Homo sapiens: one gene and its partners. The protein of the gene in region 3 interacts with the protein of the main gene of each other region in a biochemical or structural test. Each region holds a gene or a part of one and is shown on either strand. Other genes may lie near its edges.

The links.
Region 1: the proteins of GSK3B (region 3) and TNFAIP3 form a complex in vitro, tested with the Homo sapiens proteins (one study listed by BioGRID).
Region 2: of the proteins of GSK3B (region 3) and PTPN1, one has a biochemical effect on the other in vitro, tested with the Homo sapiens proteins (one study listed by BioGRID and IntAct).
Region 4: of the proteins of GSK3B (region 3) and MAP3K4, one has a biochemical effect on the other in vitro, tested with the Homo sapiens proteins (one study listed by BioGRID).
Region 5: of the proteins of GSK3B (region 3) and STAT2, one has a biochemical effect on the other in vitro, tested with the Homo sapiens proteins (one study listed by BioGRID).
Region 6: the proteins of GSK3B (region 3) and SNCA form a complex in vitro, tested with the Homo sapiens proteins (one study listed by BioGRID and IntAct).
Region 7: of the proteins of GSK3B (region 3) and DEAF1, one has a biochemical effect on the other in vitro, tested with the Homo sapiens proteins (one large-scale study listed by BioGRID).

The regions. Positions count from the first base shown.
Region 1 is NC_000006.12:137,873,759-137,877,258, reverse strand, and holds part of TNFAIP3 (tumor necrosis factor alpha-induced protein 3), read right to left. Parts: intron 2,415-3,500; coding exon 2,224-2,414; intron 1,572-2,223; coding exon 1,424-1,571; intron 1,264-1,423; coding exon 1,093-1,263; intron 184-1,092; coding exon 3-183; intron 1-2. UniProt on the Homo sapiens protein: Ubiquitin-editing enzyme that contains both ubiquitin ligase and deubiquitinase activities.
Region 2 is NC_000020.11:50,569,383-50,572,882, reverse strand, and holds part of PTPN1 (tyrosine-protein phosphatase non-receptor type 1), read right to left. Parts: intron 1-3,500. UniProt on the Homo sapiens protein: Tyrosine-protein phosphatase which acts as a regulator of endoplasmic reticulum unfolded protein response. Mediates dephosphorylation of EIF2AK3/PERK; inactivating the protein kinase activity of EIF2AK3/PERK.
Region 3 is NC_000003.12:119,909,448-119,912,947, forward strand, and holds part of GSK3B (glycogen synthase kinase-3 beta), read right to left. Parts: intron 3,364-3,500; coding exon 3,257-3,363; intron 1-3,256. UniProt on the Homo sapiens protein: Constitutively active protein kinase that acts as a negative regulator in the hormonal control of glucose homeostasis, Wnt signaling and regulation of transcription factors and microtubules, by phosphorylating and inactivating glycogen synthase (GYS1 or GYS2), EIF2B, CTNNB1/beta-catenin, APC, AXIN1, DPYSL2/CRMP2, JUN, NFATC1/NFATC, MAPT/TAU and MACF1.
Region 4 is NC_000006.12:161,047,269-161,050,768, reverse strand, and holds part of MAP3K4 (mitogen-activated protein kinase kinase kinase 4), read right to left. Parts: intron 2,154-3,500; coding exon 790-2,153; intron 1-789. UniProt on the Homo sapiens protein: Component of a protein kinase signal transduction cascade. Activates the CSBP2, P38 and JNK MAPK pathways, but not the ERK pathway. Specifically phosphorylates and activates MAP2K4 and MAP2K6.
Region 5 is NC_000012.12:56,350,108-56,353,607, forward strand, and holds part of STAT2 (signal transducer and activator of transcription 2), read right to left. Parts: intron 1,344-3,500; coding exon 1,185-1,343; intron 1,084-1,184; coding exon 991-1,083; intron 782-990; coding exon 722-781; intron 326-721; coding exon 305-325; intron 84-304; coding exon 1-83. UniProt on the Homo sapiens protein: Signal transducer and activator of transcription that mediates signaling by type I interferons (IFN-alpha and IFN-beta).
Region 6 is NC_000004.12:89,723,599-89,726,380, reverse strand, and holds the end of SNCA (alpha-synuclein), read left to right. Parts: 3' UTR 1-2,282; downstream 2,283-2,782. UniProt on the Homo sapiens protein: Neuronal protein that plays several roles in synaptic activity such as regulation of synaptic vesicle trafficking and subsequent neurotransmitter release.
Region 7 is NC_000011.10:688,723-692,222, forward strand, and holds part of DEAF1 (deformed epidermal autoregulatory factor 1 homolog), read right to left. Parts: intron 2,877-3,500; coding exon 2,779-2,876; intron 1-2,778. UniProt on the Homo sapiens protein: Transcription factor that binds to sequence with multiple copies of 5'-TTC[CG]G-3' present in its own promoter and that of the HNRPA2B1 gene. Down-regulates transcription of these genes.

The DNA of each region.
Region 1 (3,500 bases), on a different chromosome or scaffold from region 3:
ACTTTGCGGCATTGATGAGATGAGTTGTGCCATGGTCCCAGCCTTGGACGGGGATTTCTATCACCATTAAGTACTCTTTTAAGAGCTTCTCCTTCATCTCATTTTCAGGATCTGTCAAAAAGTGAACTTTTAAGTCTTCAAATCTTCCCCGGTCTCTGTTAACAAGTGGAACAGCTCGGATTTCTAAGGAAAAAAATAATACATAAGTAAAACAGTATTCTACTAAACAAGGCCATAGGTAAGTAGATCTCATTTTGAAAATGTATAAAAGATATAACTTACAGAATAGAAAAGTATTCTTAGCCACAGTTAAACCCAAATGGGAAAACAAAATGTGCTACAATCTAATATAAAAATGCACTGTTTCCAGGAAACTCACATAACATTAACCAGCCTGGAGGTGGTGGATCTTATTGGTTAAAGTCCCAGGCTTTAGAATCAGACTGACCTGAGTTTGAATCCTGGCTTTGTCACTATCAAGCTGTGTGGCATTAGGCAGGTTAGTTGACCTCTCTGAGCTTTAACTGTCTAATATGTAAAATAAGGCTACCAAGGCCTACATCTCACAAGAGTGCTAAAAGGATAAAAATGCAGTAAAATAATATTTCCAAAGCACAGTGCTTATTCCACATGAGGCTATTAAAATAACAGCTAACAGGCCAGGCATGGTGGCTCGTGCCTGTAAATTTGAGAGGCCAAAGCGAGAGACTGCTTGAGCCCAGGGGGTGGAGGCTGCAATGAGCCATGATTGTGCCACTGCACTCCAGCCTGGACAATGGAGGGAAACCCTGTCTCAAAAAGAAAAAAACTAACCTGACAGGCGTTTACTTGCTCCATACCAGGCACTGTATTAAGAGCACTGTGCGCCTTAATTTATCATGTATGAAAGTACTTTCCAAGTCATATTCAAAAAGATATGAGGGTATTATGATTACTGCTACTGCATTACTCTTACTAACCAAGCAAGTCACAGAACAATATATTTAAATAAAAATAATATACTTAAATAAGACTGTTTTAATAAGAAGCAAAAAGGAAAACCCTGATGTTTCAGTGTCTAGTTATAGATGTGAATTAATGCAGTTTTCTCACCAGGCCCACTGTCCTTCAGGGTCACCAAGGGTACAAAATGATGGCTGTCATAGCCGAGAACAATGGGGTATCTGTAGCATTCCTGGGCAGGCCAGTGGAGAGGCAAGTAAATTCCACCCACTTTCAAAGGGGCGAAATTGGAACCTGATTCCAAACTTCTTAGCATTTTGTCTGTTCAAAGAAAGAGAAAGGAAAATGAGGCCCTTAGGTGACTTTCATCAAATTCCATTGAACTCTGTTACCTGAACTTTGGCAGTGTGGTTTTCTCCAGGAGCCAAGGCATAAGGCTGAAAGCATTTAAGTACAGATCCGTGATCTGCAGGCATCTCACCTGAAATGACAATGATTGGCCTTCTGAGGATGTTGCAAAGGACAAATATGTGTATTTCTTCCAGTGAGTTGTACTGAAGTCCACTTCGGGCCATGGGTGTGTCTGTGGAAGCCATTTTGATAAGATTGTCCCATTCATCATTCCAGTTCTAAGGGGAGCGGGGTGAAAAAAAAGCTTGAATGTATCCTGTACTCCCTGTACTAAAAAGTCATTCTGACATCACTCTACAATTATTCATTTATATAACTCAGCTTATTTTTTCCCCTTTCATGAAACCATCATTCAAATGATCACCCTTTTTTCCCCATTTCGGTTTTCTTCCTTTACTTTTTTCCACTACAAGGCAAACTCAAAAGTTGGGGAGGACGGGGACAGCACCTGCTTTAAAAAAAAATCCCTGATGAGGTATCATATTGCAGCCCCTTATCCAAATGTTCACAAAAATTCCAAACTTGTGACTGAGGATGGTGAGGCACGTGTCTTAATCTTACTGGCTGGCTCAGCAAAGCTAAGGGCAATCAAACTGAAAAACAACAAAACACCAGTGGAAAAGGCCATGATCAAAAGACTCGCTGCTACAGGAACGGATCCACAGCTGGGAATCTGCTAACCAAAAGCAGGGCAAAAGCCTTGGGTGAGTCCCACTGGAGGTTTCTGGTGTTTTCCATTGAGTATGCTTCGCTTAGCCAAATTCATGTGACCTAGTCCATCAGATGCTACCAGAGGGCAGGGACTCGCCCAGGGGTACCCTATGCCCACCATGGAGCTCTGTTAGTAGATAATTAGGGGGAAAAACCTACCCGAGTATCATAGCAAAGCCCCGTTTCAACAAATTCCTGAGATTTGAGAGACTCCAGTTGCCAGCGGAATTTAAAGTTGCGTGTGTCTGTTTCCTTGAGCGTGCTGAACAGCGCCTTCCTCAGTACCAAGTCTGTGTCCTGAACGCCCCACATGTACTGAGAAGTGGCATGCATGAGGCAATTGCCGTCACCTGAGGACAGAAAGGAGGAGAAGAGAAGGAAAGTCAAGTTATCTGCATGTAAGACCCAGCAAAGGTTTTCAGAATAAACCAGCCCTACTGCTATTCTAGGGGACTGAATGGTTTAATTTGATGTAATTTCCTAGTCAAGGGCAAACTGATATTTCACAAGATGATGACAGCTTTAAGAAAAAAAGAGTTCTTTTTATTCTTCTTTTTAATGAATGACACCAACTGCAAAGGAGCCAGGGGACCTTGGTTCTAGCTTAAGTCTGCTCCTAACTAGTTTAGGTGACCTGGAGGAAATTCCTTAAGTTCACTGGGCATTTTTCCTCTTGTGAAATGAGGGCAGTAAGTGATGATCTCTAAAGCCCTATCCCTTCCTACCATCCCTTGATTTGCTGGTGAAGGCACTGGCATTGCTGCTCTCTAGTTCTAAGGAGGAGCACACAGGGCAACATGCACAAACCAGGAAGCAGGCATGGCTTGCTAGATAGGGATGGTCTGGCTATGACTCAATGGCAAATGACTTGACCATTCCACTTTAGCCTTTGGGCCCTGGGAGTTTCCTCTCCTGGTGTGGAAAGTCGTATTGACAACACGGAATTACCTATGGCCTGCTAGTCCGGCTCTCAAAAATGCCTTATGCAAACCTGCTTGTTAGTAACTGTAAAGTACAAAAGTTAAAAAGCACCTGGGTGTCTAAATTTGAAAATAATTCAGTGTTTAGGGCTAACATTTTGAGAAGAAAAACAAACAAAAAAACAGGTTTAATTGTATGCCATTAATCTGTGACCTTTCCAGTTTAAAACTCACAATTCAATGGGCTGCATTTTTTTCAACCCCCAAACGATAAATATTTTGGGGGAATGTTTAAAACAAAAAAAGTTAACTCCTTAATCTCCTTTGGCAAGTGCAAAATAATTTTTATAATGAAAAGTTACATTGTTTCTTACATTACTCTATAAGTAGGGCAATAGAGCTATTTGAAATTTTATCAAATTGTAATTACAGTCAAACTGTAAAGAAACCAAAAAACCCTCAAATATACTTCCACAGCCAGTATTCCTTCAATGTATACATTTAGAAAAACTAGCT
Region 2 (3,500 bases), on a different chromosome or scaffold from region 3:
ACCATTGAAGCAATTCTGCCACTTGGCATGGAGGCGCTAATTACATGGCAAGACCCCCACTTAGCCAAAGTGGGTGTGGCAGCTAAAAGCAGGAACTTAGAAGAATGTGAAAAGATGAATTAATCCCACACTTCTAACAACTAGATCTTATAATGCCTCAAGACCCCAGAAACAAGAGACTGATCTGACAGGTTCCACCCCACCCGTGCTGGGGTGGGCATTCCACAGAGTGAGCAGACAGAGAAGGAAGCGAAGAACAGAAATGCAGGAGGAAGAGGCCACCCTTCCTCATCTCATAAGCAGGGCAGACGAGTCTTAAAGCTCACCTCCAGACAGCAAGCACTCACTTTCAAAACCAAACCTAATGCTTAATAACCCTCTGTAATCTGGGTAAAGACTAAGACTTTGGAACTGTACAAGTGAGGAATTCTGTCATGCAACTAAGTGTCAATAACCCAATATTTATTTTTAAGGACTCTCAGGTGTCTACAGCAACAAGCTATGCTCTGTCATTTCCAATAGAAATTTTTGTTTTAAACACACAAAATTTTTAAAAGGCACAAGATCACATTTCCAGTTACCCTATTACATTGATATATACGGCCATGAAAAGTAGATGGATTTTTATTAGAACACAGTACTTCACCAGGCCTCAAATTGAGTCCTATCTTGGGCTGGTACCAGAGGAACATGGCAGTGCCAACATGCTAGCATCTCTCATAGTTGCTGTTTCCACCATGAAGGCAGATGTTAAACAGTCCTTGGGGCCTTCCCAAACAAGTGGGCAAGTGGTGTTTGGAAAACCTATGAAAGACATCTACAGTAACCCTGTGACGGGTAATTTGGTTTCGCCAAAAATTATTAACACAGAGAACTAAGTAAGTAATTCTTAACACAGAGAACTAAGTACGAGAGAAAAATGAATTATATGGACCCTGTGATACAAAATGCAGTGTCTTGTGCATGAAAGCACCTGAAAGCAAACGGCAGCTTTAGTGAGGATTTCAGGAGGGAGATACGGGTGAGATTCTGCAATGGCCAATTAAACTCACCTTGCTTACTTCCCCCTTCTAAACAACAATCCCAACCCTTACGCCATGGTGCAGCCTACACTGAGGTGTCTAAAGTCAATCCTTAAACAGAACCAGTGAGAACTCTAGCCATCTGGATGACCCCAGTCTAACACACACAATCATCTTCTGCATAACTGGTTTCCAGGAAGCCCAGGGTCCCAAAAGATAACAGGCATGTTTGCCAAAAATAAGAGGGAGCATCCTACACTATTTGGTGAAGGAAGGAAATCAGAAGACAAGTATGCATTAAATGAAAACTCCCCAAAAGCTGGTTTTACCACAAGCTGTGTGGATCATTTATAATTAGATTAGCTGAGCAAATAAGATACTGTAACTTCTCATGATTTCTCCCAGCCAGCCCTCTGGGAGGGATAATGCTGATACAGAATTGAAAATGTTGATCCCAAAGAAACTTTAACAATCTCAAACCATACATTGCTTTTCATGCCAATCTGCACGCCCAAGTAATCCTCCAGTGGAATGGGATACTTAACAAAGGAAAGCAGGGACTGCTGGCACAGTTATCACAGTAAACTACAGCAAAGCCAACCAGCCATGTTCTCGATGCCACCACAGTAACCCAAAGGGAAAGGTTGTCACAGTGGATCTGTGGGCCATTTGTGGTCAGTCTTGAGTGGGAGACAATGAAGCACAGGGCCTGGTGAGGCTGGAACACATAACTACAGCACTGGACACTGCTCAAATACATAACTACAGCGCTGGACACCACTCCTTGCTGTAATGTGACAACAATTGCTAAAGCAAACCTTGTGCTCACAGCAAAGAGGTTTTGCCAAACACTTAGCAACAAAGAAATAAATAAGAAGCAAATGCTACTATATCTGGTAATTTCTGAATAAATGTCTTGATTTAAAATTCCCAACCCTCAATACCATCTAGAGCGGTGGTTCTCAACCGGGGGCAATTTGGCCTACCAGGGGACGTTGGACAAAGTCTGGAGTCTAGACAGAAACACATCTGACTGCCACATCTGGGGAGGGGGTGCTACTGGCATCTGGTGGATAGAGGCCAGAGATGCTGCTAAACTTCCTACAGCGCCCAGCACAGCCACTCCCTGCCCGGATCCCTAGCAGACAATGATCCAGCCCAAGTGTCAGTAGTGCTGAGGGTCAGAAGCCTGCAGATGGAGCTATGCTGAAGGCTTCCACAGGCCACCAGGCTTCCCCTTCCCTCTAAGACAGTGTGTGCTGTGAGCACCTGATGCTTTGTTTCTTTACTCAAAATTGCTGACTAGTGGTGAAGGGTGGGGGTTTGCTTCACATTTGTAACTTCACATTTTACTAATCAAGCTACTAAGGAGGGAAGAAAAAATTTAAAAACCACCTTTCACTGAAAAAGTTTTTTTCTAAGACAAGATACATTATATCATCAACAGAACACTTAGGCAAGCTCCCTGTCTGTTATTGTTGGGCAAATAAACACTTTCATTTTTTAAAAAGTAGGCAAGGGTAAAAAACCCCCAAAAAACCCCAACCCCAAAACAAAACAAACCAAACCCCTATGATTTTAAACACGCGCTGTCCTAAGAGGAAGACTTTCTGCGAGTAACTAAAGCCGTTTCTTTGTGTGTGGTGGAGGCAGAGGCTTCGTGGTTAATGCTTCAAGTTTTCACTGCTGAAGTTTCCTTTGATGTGTTCCTTCTTAACACTTGGATTTTTTACATTCTAGGGCCATGACTGTGCTTTTTTTGGAAAGGTGGCCTCTCTGGAGCCCTCACCTTCTTCTGTGGCCGGAGGCAACCAGGACAGCTGTGAGAGCCGTGTCCTAGCTGAGCCTGGACCTGGCAAGGCCCAAGGACACCCAGTTCCCTGCTCCTGGGCCACACGCTCCTGCTGGTCTCCACGATCCTCAGCCCATCTCCTCCTGGACCCCGCAGCAGGGTTGGCAGTGTTGGGGAGCAGCGAGGGCAGGGAGGCCGAGGAGCCTGTGGCCCTGCTGAACACTGGCCTGCGCCTGCACAGGCAGATGGTCTAAATGGGATGGTCTACACAGGATGGTCTACACAGACAATCTACACAGGACGGTCTACAGAGACAGTCTACACAGGACAGTCTATACACGACGGTCTACAGAGACAGTCTACACAGGACAGTCTATACACGACGGTCTACAGAGACAGTCTACACAGACAATCTACACAGGACAGTCTACACAGGACAGTCTACACAGACAATCTACACAGGACAGTTTACATGGACAGTCTACACAGGACAGTCTACACAGACAATCTACACAGGACAGTCTACACAGACAATCTACACAGGACAGTCTACACAGGACAGTCTACACAGGAGGCCGGCTGCCCAGAAATCGGCTATTCTCAGCTATTCCAACAGAGTGAGGAGGGCAGGGGAGAATGCAGGCAGTTGGGGAGCTGGGGGCAGCCGTCCAGGGGTGCCTGCAAGT
Region 3 (3,500 bases):
CCACTTGCACATCCAGCTTAAAGTTGCTCCTTGTTTGTTAGCTTCCTATTCATGTCCAGCTGATCATGCTCTCTCTGTTCACTCCTGGCTAGTGGGCTAAGATGTAGTAAAAGAGAAGGTCAATAATGATTAAAGCTAATGGTCTCTATTCAGTTCCTTCTATCACTAAACATCTTGGGTGACGACTTGAGAAGGTCAATGATGATTAAAGCTAATGGTCTCTATTCAGTTCCTTCTATCACTAAACATCTTGGGTGAAGACTTGAGAAGGTCAATGATGATTAAAGCTAATGGTCTCTATTCAGTTCCTCCTATCACTAAACATCTGGGGTGAAGACTTGAGAAGGTCAATGATGATTAAAGCTAATGGTCTCTATTCAGTTCCTCCTATCACTAAACATCTGGGGTGAAGACTTGAGAAGGTCAATGATGATTAAAGCTAATGGTCTCTATTCAGTTCCTTCTATGACTAAACATCTTGGGTGCATACTTCTGCAGAATCAGTGCATCTAGCAAAACTACTAGTGATTTAAGCTGATTTTATATTAAATAATGGAGATGGCATGAAGGAAATGTTAGCAATATGGCCATACTATCACTTTCATTATTAACTTAATGAAATAACATTAATTAATAAATTATCCAACTAGTATAATCATGCTCAGAAGTATTTCAGGAGGATTTTAAATAAGAAAGTAAAAAAAAGTTACTTAGAATTAATTTAAATTCTTAAGGTAAAAGCTATTAGCTTTATGATTCTAACAGTCCAAGGAAGAAAAATAGAATAGTAGGTATACCTTAAATTCTAAAAAGTAGAATTTGAAAAATTCTATACAGGCATACGTCAGAGATGTTGCAGAACTGGTTCCAGACCATAACAATAAGACACAATAAAGCAAGTCTCACCAATTTTCTGGTATCCCAGTGCATATAAAAGGTATGTTCACTCTATACTGTAGTCTATTACTTGTATAATAGAATTGTATAAAAACATAAATGTAATACATTAACTTAAACACACTTTATTACTAAAAAAAAATGCTAATGATCATCTAAGCCTTCAGTGAGTTGTAATCTTTTTGCTGGCAGAGGGTCTTGCCTTGATGTCGATGGCTGCTGACTGATCAGGGTGGCAGTTGCTGAAGGCTATACGATGTGGCTGGAGTAATTTCTTAAAGTGACAATGAAGTTTGCCACATCAACTGACTCTTCCCTTCATGAAAGATTTTTCTCTAGTAGGAGATGCTCTTTGATAGCATTTTACCCACATTAGAACCACTTTCAAAATGGGAGTCAGTCCTCTCAACCCCTGCTGCTGCTTTATCAACTACAATTATGTAATATTCTAAATCCTTTGTTGTCATTTCAACAATATTCACAGCGTCTTAACCACTAGTAGATTCCACCTCAAGAAACCACTTTCTTTGCTCATCCATAAAAGAAGCAACTTGTTTATGTTTCATCATGAGATTGCAGCAGTTCAGTCACATCTTCAGGCTCCACTTCTAATTCTAGTTCTCTTGCTAGTTCCACAACATCTGCAGAGACTTCCTTCACTGAAGTCTAGAATGCCTCAAGGTCACCCATGAGGCTTGGAATCAACTTCTTCCAAAATGTTGTTCATGTGATTGAGTCACAAATGTTCTTAGTGACACCTAGAATGGTGAATCCTTTCCAGAAGATTTAAAATTGACTTTGCCCAGATCCATCAGACTAATCACTATCTAGGGCAGCTATAGCCTTACAAATGTATTTCTCAACCTTTGGGTGACCAGTTGCACTGTCCATAAGCAGTAATATTTTGAAAGAAATACTCTTCTCTGGAGTAGTAGGTCTCAGCAGTGGGCTTCAAATATTCAGTGAACCATGCTATAAACAGATGTGCTATCATCCACTCATTGTTGCTCCATTTATGCAGCACAGGCAGAATACATTCAGCATCATTCTTAAGGGCCCTAGGATTTCTGGAATGGTAAATGAGCAGTGGCTTGCACTTAAAAGTCACCAGCTACATTAGGCCCTCACAAGAGAGTCAACCTGTCCTTAGAAGCTTTGAAGCCAGGCAATGACACTTCTCCTCTCTAGAAGAAGTCTTCCATCTCTAGAAAATCTAGAGATGAAAGTCCTAAACGGTATCTTCTTCCAATTCAGTAGAAGGCTATTTGGTCTCCATTAAAACTCTGATGTTTAATGTAGCCACCTTCATCGATGATCTTAGTTAGATCTTCTGGATAACTTGCTGCAGCTTCTACATCAGCACTTGCTGCTTGCCTTGCACTTTTATGGCATGGTGCAGCTTTTTACCCTTAATCCTCATGAAATAACCTCTGCTACCTTCAGATTTTTCTTGTGTAGCTTCCTCACCTCTCTGTCTTCACAGAATTGAAGGGAGTTCAGGCCTTGCTGGGTTAGGCTTTGGCTCAAGTGAATGTTGTGGTTGGTTTGATCTATCCAAACCACTAAAACTTTCCCTGTAACAGCAATAAGGCTGTTTCACTTTCTTATCATTCATCTGTTCATTGGAGTAGCACTTTAATTTCCTTTAAGAACTTTTCCTTTCTGGTCACAACTTGGCTAACTGTGTGGCACAATTTCGATATGCCTTCCTTGCTCAGCTTAATCATTTCTAGCTTTTGATTAAAAGTGAAAAATGTACCTTTCACTTGAACACTTAGAGGCAACTGCAGAGTTATTAATTGGCCTAATTTCAATATTGTTGTCTCTCAGGGAATAGGGAGGCCTGAGGATAGGAAGAGAGATGGGGAATGGCCAGCTGGTGGAATATTCATAACATACACAACACCGATCGATTAAGTTTGCTGTCTTATATTGTTGTGGTTTGTGGCAAACCAAAACAATTACAATAGTAACATCAAAGACCACTGATCATAGATCACCATAGCAGATACAATGAGAATGTTTGAAATGTTGCAATAATTACCAAAATGTGACACAAAGACATGATGACACAAAGACATGAAGTGAGCACATGCTCTTATAAAACTAGTGTGGGCAGACTTGCTTGACTCAGGGTTGACACAAACCTTTGAGAGGTTAAAAAAAAAAAAGCAGTGCCTGGAAAGTATAATAAAATGAGGTATGCCTATACATGTTTGCATCTCAAGCTTTAAGAAAAAAAACATTATGGGATATATCCATCTTTCCATGGAAATAAAAGTACAGATTAGTAGTACTAAATTACCAAAATCAAGAAGCAATTAATAATTATGAGCATTATATTCAGATTTGTACTTACCTATACTAGAGGTATAATCAGTGGCTCCAAAGATCAACTCTGGTGCCCTATAGTACCGAGAACAGATATACGAAACATTGGGTTCTCCTCGGACCAGCTGCTTTGCACTAACAGAAAAAAAATAAAAATAAAAAGCAGAAATTCTTTAAATCTAAACCTTAAAGAACTTAGACTGCTATCCTTTCACAGTATCAAATGATTTTATAAGATTCACATCATTTGAATCATATATGAAAAAGAAAAT
Region 4 (3,500 bases), on a different chromosome or scaffold from region 3:
AGCAAAATCACTTGTACAGTACTATTTTGGACTCTCAAGAATGATATCCCACAAAATGCCCTTGTCTAGTATTACCACCCTTTACAATAAGGAATTTATAACACGTCAAGCTATCAAAAGCAAATCTATACTGTTTTCAAGTCACTTCCTCTAGTGGGCACATTCCTCTCACAAAAATCTACACATATCGAAACACATATCTGACAAAAATCAGGACTTCCCTTAAACTTTCATCACCTGCACCGAACACTTTAACCTTGCGAGATAGTGTTGGCTTTTTCCCCTTGATCATTCTGACATTTCTCTATAATTTACATCTCTTTAAAATACAGTGACCAAAACTTGACATGCTAATCAAAAGAGAGAAAACAACTTCAAAGGATAGAGAAAGAACTCTCTCCTTGACCTTGGGCGCCCTATTCATTTATAAACACCTGAGTGTGACGTGGACTTTTTTCCTGACTCACATGCAGCTTGTGGTCATCCATGACTATGGCTTTCTTCCTTCCATTTTTGTTTATACCCAGCCTGTCCTTTGCCATCCTGTATTTACGTGGTTGAACTTATTCCCTCCACATACCACCCTGCACTTAATTCACTAAATTTCATGCAGTTTTCATAGATCTATTTAATCATAGTACTTTACAGAAATGCTTAAATGTGCAATTTATAACTGCCATTTGTGTTCAAAAATATTAGAATATGAAAGTACATAACACCAACATTATAATTTGCAATAAATAAATGGAACTAAGGATATCATTGTATTAATACCTACTGGAAACCTACCTCCACTGGACGATCGTTCTTTACCAATGCTATACGTGCCCTTTGCAAGGAACCATCCATTAGCTTGTGAAGTCTTAAAATTAACTTTCTTAACCCCATCTGCTTCAGTGCTTTGTCTACAAATGGTCTATAAATAGAAGTCAGACAATGTCTACTAAAGCCTGCTTCTGTGCTCCAGTCTGGTGCTCCCCAGCCAAGAGAATCATCCTCAGATTCGAGCCTCTCAAGCTTCTTGGATATGCAGTCCCGCGACTGGATGTCGAAGCTGTTATCTATGGGCTGTCTGATTTCCGGTACCCTAGGATCAGAGATTTGTTCTTCTTCACTCTCATCCGTACTACTTTCCAACTCCTTTAATTCTCCTTCTGTGTCATCACCCTCATACTCCGGCTCATTACCTTTGGATGGTCGAGGGGAAGGGATTTCAAACACTGGCCAGCCAATGTCTGATAAATTCTTGATGCCCAAAACAGTGCCCATAATCCTTAATTTCTGATTTAAGTCTTTTGTGATGTTTAACCACAAACAGAGTGCCTGCACCCTGTCCTGGAAGTCTTTTGCAGCATATTTTTCATAGTCCTTCTGAAGAGCCTGCAATGATGGATAAAGTGCTTCTATGTACTCTAGCAGCTCCATTATCCGTTTTACCTGCTCAAATGAGACCCTCTGGCGTTGGAGATGCTCATGATGTGTTGAGTAACCTACAATCTTTGTTCCAGGAGTGGCTTTGCACTGCCCTTCTACTGAAGTACCATTAAAACCAGCTCTATCTCTAACAAAGGCGAAGCTCCCATAGTCGACTTTGAAAGTAAGGATTTCATTAATAATATCTGGGATGGCTTGACGGGCTGTATATAAAAAGAAGTCCTGGTCGTTAATTGTCCGTCCTGCATGCCAGGCTTGTAGCTCTAACCAGATCAGTTCGTTAGATCGGTTAAGCCAGAAACCAGACGTATTTTCTTGTCCTCTTTGCTCCCTGTCTTTTTTCTTTGAGACTGAGGTAAGCTTTAGCAAAAGTCGTAAAGTTTCAAAAAACTTTAAACGATCTGCTGGACAGTCAGTCCTAGAAGTCTGGCGTGCAGGTCTGGCTATAGGCATGGGCACAGATACTGGAAGCTTAGCATTGCTACAGCCAAGGCTGAGGTAAGGCTTATTGAGATCCACATCTGGAATTGATTTTTTTGGCAAAGATCCACCCACTGAGTCTAACATGAATGAGCACTGTACATTTTTTTTACGATCACGCTCTGTTGTTCTAAGAGCTGCTCGGATCTTTTTCTCCTGCTTATAGCTGTATTCTTCCACATTCTCCACTGTTTTTCCAGTGTCTTTATGTGGAGGCTGATTTGGTGCATTCATTTTTTCTATTAAAAAAAAAAATAAACAGAACATTATATAACTCTAAAATATGAAGCTACTCTCAATATTTTCAATAAAACTGGTATTCACACATATTTATATTTTCAGACTGCTAATGGAAGAAAAAAAAGCATACCATATCCTAAAAATTAAAGGAATCAAAAAATATATATGACATTTTCTATATTTTAAAAAAAATTATCCATTTTTCCAGTATTTGCTGTATTCTCTTATATTCACAACTAATTACCTAAACTAGCTGTTTATTTCTCTCTATGCTACAAAGCATAGTTATCAAATCATTTAACCAAATTTCCGTAAGTAATCACCTTCAATTTAAGGAGGAAGAAACAGCATGGGAGATCTGACGGACACCTGGATGAGAAAATATATTTAATTCCTGCATTTGTCATTAGCTAAATGTGTAAACTTAAGAGGAAATCACGTAAATTATCTGGATTACTTTTCTCATTGATAAAATTAGGCACATTGATGCAAGAATACTTAAGGCACCCTAAGATTATTCTCATAAAAAACTGAAAGACAGTTGACAGACAAAAACACTGACGTTAGTTTATTCTATTCCTTTATTTCTCCTTTGCCACAAACAAGTGGGCAATAACATTTTAAATTTAAAATTAGCAAGACTGAAGACATATAGACTAATTTGGTATAATTTGCTTAGTATGTTATACTGCCATGTAAAATCATTTACAATTAATGCGAAAAAAGCAAAAACCACCCACTTCCTTCAAACATCTAGAAGAGGTTCTATAATCTGATTCCAAGCTTTAAAATGAACACACATACATCCTGTATGGCACTTTTAACACTATTAATTGCTCTACGTTACTGAAATCCTTTCATTCTGTTGCTTCTGGGTTCTTACACTTCCTTAAGTTAGTCCCTTCTTTTCAAATACCTCCTTGGAGCTTTGCTCACTACATAAAATGTTAATGTTTCTCCAAGTGCTAATCTTAGATCTCTTCTCCCTGGGTGATCTCATTCATTTCCACATCATATATCGATAATGCCCAAACCTATAACGCCATCTCAATCTACCCTCTACACTCAAGGCATAGTTTATTTCATTGAATCTAGGACACACATTTTTTCATACATTAACATCTCTGAAATTAGAACGTTATATATAATCAATGATGATATAAGTAAGTTTTAGGGACATATTTGCCAATATTTTTCATTTACATTTTTCTTTTTTTCTGAGACAGGCTGGAGTGCAGCCTCAACTTCCTGGGCTCGAGTGATCCTCCCGCCTCAGCCTCCCAAGTAGCTAGAACCACAGGCACGCATCACCACACCCAGCTAATTTTTTTTTTTGGGTAGAGACA
Region 5 (3,500 bases), on a different chromosome or scaffold from region 3:
AGTCCCAAATCAAACCCTGACTCTGCCCCTTCTCGGGGGTCAAAGTTTTCTGGTTTGAAGTCAGAATGTTGAACTTCCGGAAGCTGTTCCAGGAGGAAGATACATGGAGACAAGGAATGGAATTATTCTAAAAACTCAGCAGAAAAAAAAAAACAGAAGTTCCACTTCATTTCAGATCTCGCCATCTCCCTTTGTCCATATCCCAAATCCCCCTCTTCCTTGTTTGTGCCACCAGGGCTGCCGAATGTGGTTCTGCAGGTCATACACTGTACAGATGTTTGCAGTGTCCTTGTCAAGCACCTACCCTTGTAATTGAGGAGGATTCCTGAAAAGAAATAAATTTAAAAAAATCATTGGGCAAAAGAGTATGGAAGTTAGGAGTTTCGTCTTTGGGATCAGACAGACCTCGGTTCAAACCCGACTTGAGCTCACTAGCTATGTGGCCTTGAGAAGAGATGTAATCAGTCTCTCTAAGCCTGTATCTTTGTTTGTACAGTGCACTGGTAATAGTTTATTCATGGGGTTGGTGTGACAATTAAATGAGTAGCTGACATGCTGCATGTCACAAAGTAAGTGTTCAACAAAAGAAATGAATTATAATTTCTGTGAGGTAGGATTGGAAGGAGGAAGGAGATAGCCCTAGGGCCCTGTTGTGAAGAGTGAGTATCTCCTCCACCCCAGCAGCCCGTGTCCTGGCCACCCTTCACCTGCTCCAATTTACCTGTCAATGGAGACTTCCACAGTCAGTGACTCATTGCCTTCCTGGAGTCTCACCAGCAGCCTGGGGGAAGGAAGGGGGATAGGGGAAAGTGGTCAACCTCAACCTTCCGGATAGACTAGATGTTTGAAAAAGAGAAGAGGGATTATAAGAGGTAGGGAGATTGCAGGGAAAGAGAAGAAAAAGCCAAGAGTGGGAAGAGCTGTAAAGCCAGAAAATACACAGTGGCAGGGTTGGAAAAAGGAAGTGGGAATGAGTTCTGGAATGCCAACCTTGTTCGGACGGTGAACTTGCTGCCAGTCTTGAGGATGAGGGGTCGATGGGGAGTTTGGGGCATGCAGGGCTGGGTTTCTACCACAAAGGCTCTGAGGAGAGAGAGGTGTGGAGAGAATATATAGCTCAGTATCTGTAAGAATGGCTTCCCTTGTTCCTTCTTTCCCCCAGGGTTCCTGCCTGGCCTCTAGACCTGTGGAGCAGACGCTGTAGCAACTCTGTGACCTGGGCGTTGCGTAGGTCCACCCCTTTGGTCAGAGGGTCATCCTGATAGCTAACCAGGCAACTCAGTCCCTTCAGCTCCTTCAGCAGCTGCCTCAGGTGAAACAACAGCTTTGCTCCAGCTGTGAACCTGGGTGATAAAATTCAGGAAGAAGGAATCCATGAGTTTCCTGGATTCCCCCATCCAGGTTCCAAGATCTCTCTGTAAATATGTGAAGAGTCAGAAACTGACTGGGGGGAAGAAAAAAAAAGAATCCAGGAAGCATATAAAGGATTATTCAACATGATTCATAATCCAAGAAATGAAAATCAAAGCTATTTTCACATATAAAACTGCTAATAGATTTAACATAACAGTTTTCATATGCTATGTACAACTTATATTAAGCCCTTTCCACATATTAATGCATTTAATCCTCAAAACAACCCTCTGAGGCAGGTACTATTATTTTCCCCACATTACAGATGATAAAACTGAGGCACAGAAAGGTTAAGTGACTTGCTTAAGGTCATACAACTAGTAAGGGATGAAGCTTGTATGTGATCCCAGGCAGTCTCATTGTACAACTCACACTTTGTTTTTTTTTTTTAGACAGTCTCACTCTCTTGTCATCCAGGCTGGAGTGCAATGGTGTGATCTTGGCTCACTGCAACCTCCACCTCCTGGATTCAAGAGATTCTCCTGCCTTGGCCTCCCGAGTAGCTGGGATTACAGGTATGTGCCACCACGCCCGGCTAACTTATATATATATATTTTTAGTAGAGACGGGGTTTTGCCATGTTGGCCAAGCTGGTCTTGAACTCCTGACCTCAGGTGATCCGCCCACCTTGGCCTCCCAAAGTGCTGGGATTACAGGTGTGAGCCACTGCACCCAGCCCCAACTCACATTTTTAACTACTGTACTTTACTGTCTCTATAATTAAAAATAATAATAATCAGCAATGTGGTGACAGGAAAACAACCATACACTACACATGAGAAAATAGATTCGATTGGGACAACTATTCTGGGAAACATTTGTAACTATCTTTTTTTTTTTTTTTTTTTTTTGGTGGGGGTGGGGGTGGGGGTGGTTTCTGGCAAAAACCTGAAAGCCTGCTAGACAAATCCTAAAAGAGCTGTAACACTTGGAACTATCTTTTAAAAAGCCTCGCCAGCTGACATGGTGGCTCACACCTGTAATCTCAGCACTTTGGGAAGCAAAGGTGGGCAGATCACTTAAGGCCAGGCACTCCAGCCTGGGAGACAGAGAGAGACCCTGTCTCAATCAATCAATCAATCAATCAATCAATGCATGCATGCATGCATGCTGGTCCTGTACCATAAGTACTATATGCCTGTTTTTCAATCTACCTGAGCAATTGTGGTATTTTTTTAATCTACTTTTTTTTTTTTTAAGAGGTGAGGGTCTTGCTATATTGCTCAGGCTGACATCAAACTCCTGGACTCAAGCACTCTTTCTGCCTCAGCCTCCTCAGTAGCTGGGTATTATGGTATGTGTACATATATACTTTTAGAGACAGGGTCTCGTTCTGTTGTCCAGGCTGGACTACAGTGGTATAATCATGGCTCACTGCAGCCTCCAACACCTGGGCTCAAGCAATCCTCCCACCTCAGCCTCCTGAGTAGCTAGGGACTACAGGCGTGTGCCACCATGCCTAATCTTTTTTTTTTTTTTTTGAGACGGAGTCTCGCTCTGTCACCCAGGCTGGAGTACAGTGGCATGATCACAGCTCACTGCAACCTCTGCCTCCCGAGTTCAAGTGATTTTCCTGCCTTAGCCTCCTGAGTAGCTGGGAATACAGGCATGCGCCACCACACCTGGCAAATTTTTGTATTTTTAGTAGAGATGGGGTTTCACCACATTGGCCAGGCTGGTCTTGAACTCCTGACCTCAAGTGATCCACCCACCTTGGCCTCCCACAGTGCTGGCCACATGTGTGAGCCACTGTGTCCGGACATGCCTAATTAAAAAACAAATTTTTTTTTTTTGTAGAGATGGGGTCTTGTTATGTTTCCCGGGCTGGTCTCAAACCCCAAGACTGAAGTGATCCTCCTGCCTCAGCCTTCCAAAGTACTAGGATAACAGGCATGAGACGCCATGCCTGGCCTGGTATATTTCTAAAAGACTAAATTATAATAAATTTTTAAATGAGAAAATATTGAAAACAGTAGGTATTTTTCAAGTATGTTGGAGGACACACTAGTGATTTTTCTACAACACAATATAATTACCATAAAATATAGCGTTTCCTGGAAAAAGGTAACAAGAAATTGAAAATAACC
Region 6 (2,782 bases), on a different chromosome or scaffold from region 3:
CGATGTTAAAACAAATTAAAAACACCTAAGTGACTACCACTTATTTCTAAATCCTCACTATTTTTTTGTTGCTGTTGTTCAGAAGTTGTTAGTGATTTGCTATCATATATTATAAGATTTTTAGGTGTCTTTTAATGATACTGTCTAAGAATAATGACGTATTGTGAAATTTGTTAATATATATAATACTTAAAAATATGTGAGCATGAAACTATGCACCTATAAATACTAAATATGAAATTTTACCATTTTGCGATGTGTTTTATTCACTTGTGTTTGTATATAAATGGTGAGAATTAAAATAAAACGTTATCTCATTGCAAAAATATTTTATTTTTATCCCATCTCACTTTAATAATAAAAATCATGCTTATAAGCAACATGAATTAAGAACTGACACAAAGGACAAAAATATAAAGTTATTAATAGCCATTTGAAGAAGGAGGAATTTTAGAAGAGGTAGAGAAAATGGAACATTAACCCTACACTCGGAATTCCCTGAAGCAACACTGCCAGAAGTGTGTTTTGGTATGCACTGGTTCCTTAAGTGGCTGTGATTAATTATTGAAAGTGGGGTGTTGAAGACCCCAACTACTATTGTAGAGTGGTCTATTTCTCCCTTCAATCCTGTCAATGTTTGCTTTACGTATTTTGGGGAACTGTTGTTTGATGTGTATGTGTTTATAATTGTTATACATTTTTAATTGAGCCTTTTATTAACATATATTGTTATTTTTGTCTCGAAATAATTTTTTAGTTAAAATCTATTTTGTCTGATATTGGTGTGAATGCTGTACCTTTCTGACAATAAATAATATTCGACCATGAATAAAAAAAAAAAAAAAGTGGGTTCCCGGGAACTAAGCAGTGTAGAAGATGATTTTGACTACACCCTCCTTAGAGAGCCATAAGACACATTAGCACATATTAGCACATTCAAGGCTCTGAGAGAATGTGGTTAACTTTGTTTAACTCAGCATTCCTCACTTTTTTTTTTTAATCATCAGAAATTCTCTCTCTCTCTCTCTCTTTTTCTCTCGCTCTCTTTTTTTTTTTTTTTTTACAGGAAATGCCTTTAAACATCGTTGGAACTACCAGAGTCACCTTAAAGGAGATCAATTCTCTAGACTGATAAAAATTTCATGGCCTCCTTTAAATGTTGCCAAATATATGAATTCTAGGATTTTTCCTTAGGAAAGGTTTTTCTCTTTCAGGGAAGATCTATTAACTCCCCATGGGTGCTGAAAATAAACTTGATGGTGAAAAACTCTGTATAAATTAATTTAAAAATTATTTGGTTTCTCTTTTTAATTATTCTGGGGCATAGTCATTTCTAAAAGTCACTAGTAGAAAGTATAATTTCAAGACAGAATATTCTAGACATGCTAGCAGTTTATATGTATTCATGAGTAATGTGATATATATTGGGCGCTGGTGAGGAAGGAAGGAGGAATGAGTGACTATAAGGATGGTTACCATAGAAACTTCCTTTTTTACCTAATTGAAGAGAGACTACTACAGAGTGCTAAGCTGCATGTGTCATCTTACACTAGAGAGAAATGGTAAGTTTCTTGTTTTATTTAAGTTATGTTTAAGCAAGGAAAGGATTTGTTATTGAACAGTATATTTCAGGAAGGTTAGAAAGTGGCGGTTAGGATATATTTTAAATCTACCTAAAGCAGCATATTTTAAAAATTTAAAAGTATTGGTATTAAATTAAGAAATAGAGGACAGAACTAGACTGATAGCAGTGACCTAGAACAATTTGAGATTAGGAAAGTTGTGACCATGAATTTAAGGATTTATGTGGATACAAATTCTCCTTTAAAGTGTTTCTTCCCTTAATATTTATCTGACGGTAATTTTTGAGCAGTGAATTACTTTATATATCTTAATAGTTTATTTGGGACCAAACACTTAAACAAAAAGTTCTTTAAGTCATATAAGCCTTTTCAGGAAGCTTGTCTCATATTCACTCCCGAGACATTCACCTGCCAAGTGGCCTGAGGATCAATCCAGTCCTAGGTTTATTTTGCAGACTTACATTCTCCCAAGTTATTCAGCCTCATATGACTCCACGGTCGGCTTTACCAAAACAGTTCAGAGTGCACTTTGGCACACAATTGGGAACAGAACAATCTAATGTGTGGTTTGGTATTCCAAGTGGGGTCTTTTTCAGAATCTCTGCACTAGTGTGAGATGCAAACATGTTTCCTCATCTTTCTGGCTTATCCAGTATGTAGCTATTTGTGACATAATAAATATATACATATATGAAAATATGTATTTGGTTTCTGCCTCCAGTTCTTACAAAGAGCTCCTAAAACCCTTGTAATTTCCTGAGTAGTAGGGGTGCTAGGGTCATCTTTTGTTCTAATATTTGGTCTTTGACTCTGCTTTCTGACAGAGCTCCTTAGTCCCTGGGTGAGAGTAGCATCTTCTCTTCTAATGAAGTGACTCTTGCTGGGTTCCTGGATGGGGGCTGGTCACCAGAAAGGTCAAGCCATGATAAGAAGCTTGAAGCTTTTGGCCCCATTCACATCTTCTGGGGACGGGAGAGAAGAGGAGCTGGAGATTGAGTTAATAAGCAACAATGCTTCCATGATGAAGACTCCATAAAAATCCCTAAAAGACAGGATTCAGAGTGCTTTGAAATAGGTGAACATGCAGAGGTGCTGGGAATTGTGGTGTGTCCAGAGAAGGCATGCAAGCTCCCCACGCCTCCCCCATACCTTTCCCTGTGCATCTCTTCCATCTGGCTGTTCCTGAGTTGTATCCTTTT
Region 7 (3,500 bases), on a different chromosome or scaffold from region 3:
CTCCACAAACAAGAAACACCCTCCCTTCCACCTGAGCCGCTCCCACAAGGTCACCGTCTTCATGCAGAGTTTCCAACAGACCGAGTTGGCCGCCACAGACAAGGCCTTGTGCAGGACCGCCCTCCAGACCTCCTTACAGATGGCAACTGGAGACCAGGGCCTCAAAACCACATTTCCACACTGGCTGAAGCTGCTGCAACTGCTGCCTGCTTCCAAAATCAGCCTTCAGGCGGCACAGACCCCGCCACAGGAAGCCAGAGTCTCCATGCCCACACACCACTGCTGGAACTTGAACCCTACCTTGGCCAAGTCATCCGGCAAACTCTGGCCTGCAGGCTCTGTTCACCCCACGGTGGGGCAGACCAGAGACTTCCAGGGGCCTCTCTGAACCCCGTGTTTTGGGTGCCCCAAGGTTTTCATTCTGAATACAAAACCAACCGAGGCAAAGTGAGAAAACAACTGTTTCTTTTTTTCTTTTTCTTTTTTTTTTTTTTTTTTTTTGAGACGGAGACTCGTTCTGTCACCCAGGCTGGAGTGCAGTGGCGCCATCTCGGCTCACTGCAAGCTCCGCCTCCCGGGTTCACGCTATTGTCCTGCCTCAGCCTCCTAAGTAGCTGGGACTACACACGCCCACCACCACACCAGGCTAATTTTTTGCATTTTTTTTTTTAGTAGAGATGGGGTTTCACCGTGTTAGCCAGGATGGTCTCCATCTTCTGACCTCATGATCTGCCCATCTCGGCCTCCCAGAGTGCTGGGATTACAGGCAGGAGCCACCGCGCCCAGCTGACAACTGTTTCCTACATCTGAAAATGTCACTGTCAAATCAGAGCACTTGAGTAGAAGTTTATCATGGAGTGGAGGGACCCCCAACACACATGCCTGACGCCTGGGCTCACACAGGGGGTCCTACTGCTGTGCCTGAGTCACCAAAGACCTGCAGCTCTTCACTGGAGAAAAGGAATGTCTTGTGTTTGTTTAAGAGTCACAGAGTATTTTTCTTAGGAAGGGAACACACAGTTATTTCAGACCGTGCCCCGCTTTGTTGTCAGTTTCCAAACAGGAACACACCAGTCTCTGGTCTTCCTGGCCTGGAGGGGAGAAAACCAGCCTCAGGCACTTGCAGGACACCCCCGCTCCATGACGTCAGCACGTTCCAGGCACCCACAGGTGCCTTGGGCTTCAGCCCCTCCTAGGAAATGAGGAGGTGCCCAGACCCCACTGCCAGGAAGGAGCAGCCTGACTGAAAACACAGATCGCCACGTGGCCATGGGTCAGCTTGTGTGTGTTCTCACACCCACCAGAAATAAGCCAAGTTTCTGGGCTGGGTGCGGTGGCTCATGCCTGTAATCCCAGCACATTGGGAGGCCGAGATGGTAGCTACCTGAGGTCAGGAGTTTGAGACTACCTGGACAACATGGGGAACCCAGGAGGTGGAGGTTGCAGTGAGTTGAGATCACTCCACTGCACTCCAGTTTGGGCAACAGAGAAAGACTCTGTCAAAAAGGAAGGGGAGGGGAGGGGAGAGGAGGGGAGGGGAGGGCAGGGCAGGGGAGGGCAGGGGAGGGCAGGGGAGGGGAGGGGAGGAGAGGGCAGGGGAGGGCAGGGGAGGGGAGGGCAGGGGAGGGGAGGGCAGGGGAGGGGAGGGCAGGGGAGGGGGTTTCCAAGTTTCTTATGTTTTTACTGAAGTCCTTCACAAGTTTTCTGTTTGCTGCCATTCTAACAATAACTGTGCTTTCAGGCCGGGTGTGGTGGCTCACACCTATAATCCTTATAATCCCAGCACTTTGGGAGGTCAAGGCGGGCACCTGAGGTCAGGAGTTTGAGGCCAGCCTGGACAACATGGTGACCTGTCTCTACTAAAAATACAAAAATTAGCCTGGCATGGTGGCACACGCCTGTAATCCCAGCTACTCAGGAGGCTGAGGCACAAGAATGGCTTGAACCCAGGAGGCGGAGGTTGCAATGAGCCGAGATTGCACCACTGCACTCCAGTCTAGGTGACAGAGCAAGACCCCGTCTCAAAAACAAAACAAACAAATAACCACTCTGCTTTCAGGTATATGGAGATGATGTCCCAGGTATGTGACCAAGGCTGAAAAGACTACAAGTAACAGGTGCCAATGGTCCCAGGGAAAATCCCTTTCTGGAGACTGGACCCACCCTGGCATCTGCCACTTGGAAACAAGGTTGCCTGCCCTGGTTGACCAGATGTCCCCAGATCGCCGAAGGCCCCACACATAAAACATAAAATAAGCTGATAAAACATGATCACAAAAGGGCTCTGAAGGTGGCACAGACACTATTTGAAATGCAACTGGCTTTCAGCAGTTTTCTAAGTAGACAGCAGTCAGGCGTGGGAGACTGCACCATAAATGCTACGAGAACAGGATATGGGGGAGGGAAACGCCTTGCTTCTTTCAGCTGGCCCTGCAGCTATAGGATAAGGAGCACAGGCAGGGCCGGGCCTCGGGCAGAGGCTGAACTGTGGCCGGACAGCAGCCTGCTGGGAGTCCCTGCCCAACGCAGGCCACAAGCCCATCTGACAGGTGTGGCTCTTCACCTGGCCTTCCGAGGCAGCTTCTACCTCAGCTGTAATTTCTCCCACCTCCAGCACAGCCCGAAGGCCTCTGAGAGCAGAGCGAGCCAGTGCGTCCCTCCCCAGCTCACAGAGCAGACGTTCACACAGCGGGCTGAACCCCGGGAGAGCCTCGGGGAAGCCGGAGGCCCCCAGCGTGGCACCACCCGCCCTGGGCTGTGCCCCTCGGAGCAGCTTACCAGAACATGTCCTGAGATGGATGCCGCGTTCGCCACAGACGTGGTGAAGACATTGTCTGCAGCAGCCCCCACGTTGGCCACTGTCACTGTGGTCACCTCTGCAACAGAAGGAGCCTCATTTAACAAGCAACAAAAGCCAGAATGGACAAAGCGAACAGCCTCGCTCAGGTGCTTCAAACAAAGTGACTCCCCCTCAGGTGTGTGCCCTTGTAACCAGGAAGATCTTAACACTTCCATGAACACGCTCGACCTACATTTCTATTCCATTGTCTAAGTCATTCGGCTCTTCCAGGAAAAAGAGAGGAAATCTATTCTTCCCCAGTAAAGCCTTTTACGTGCAGTAAAAAATGCATACAACAAACCCGCCACCCCAGCCAGCCCCAGCTCTATCAAACCACCACGGGGCTTCTATCTCCTTCTGCGGCACAGCTGTGGGTTCTGCTGGTCAGGTGTGCCCTATGCCTACGAGGAGCTCTCGGCCTCCCCGCAGGTGAGGACACCTCCTGGACCCACTCTTGTAGCTCCATTCCTGCCTCTCCTCCACCGCAGGGGTCAGGCCACCATCGTCAGGTGACCTCGGCCCCATGCTCACAGCCATTGCCCTTGGTCTCTGACCCCTTCCTCCTAAAAAGTACATCTAACCTGCCTATGTCCCTTGGTGCCACCCCACCGCACCCCCTACAACATGGAACTCAGCCCCCTGGCATGCAGACAGGCCCTTC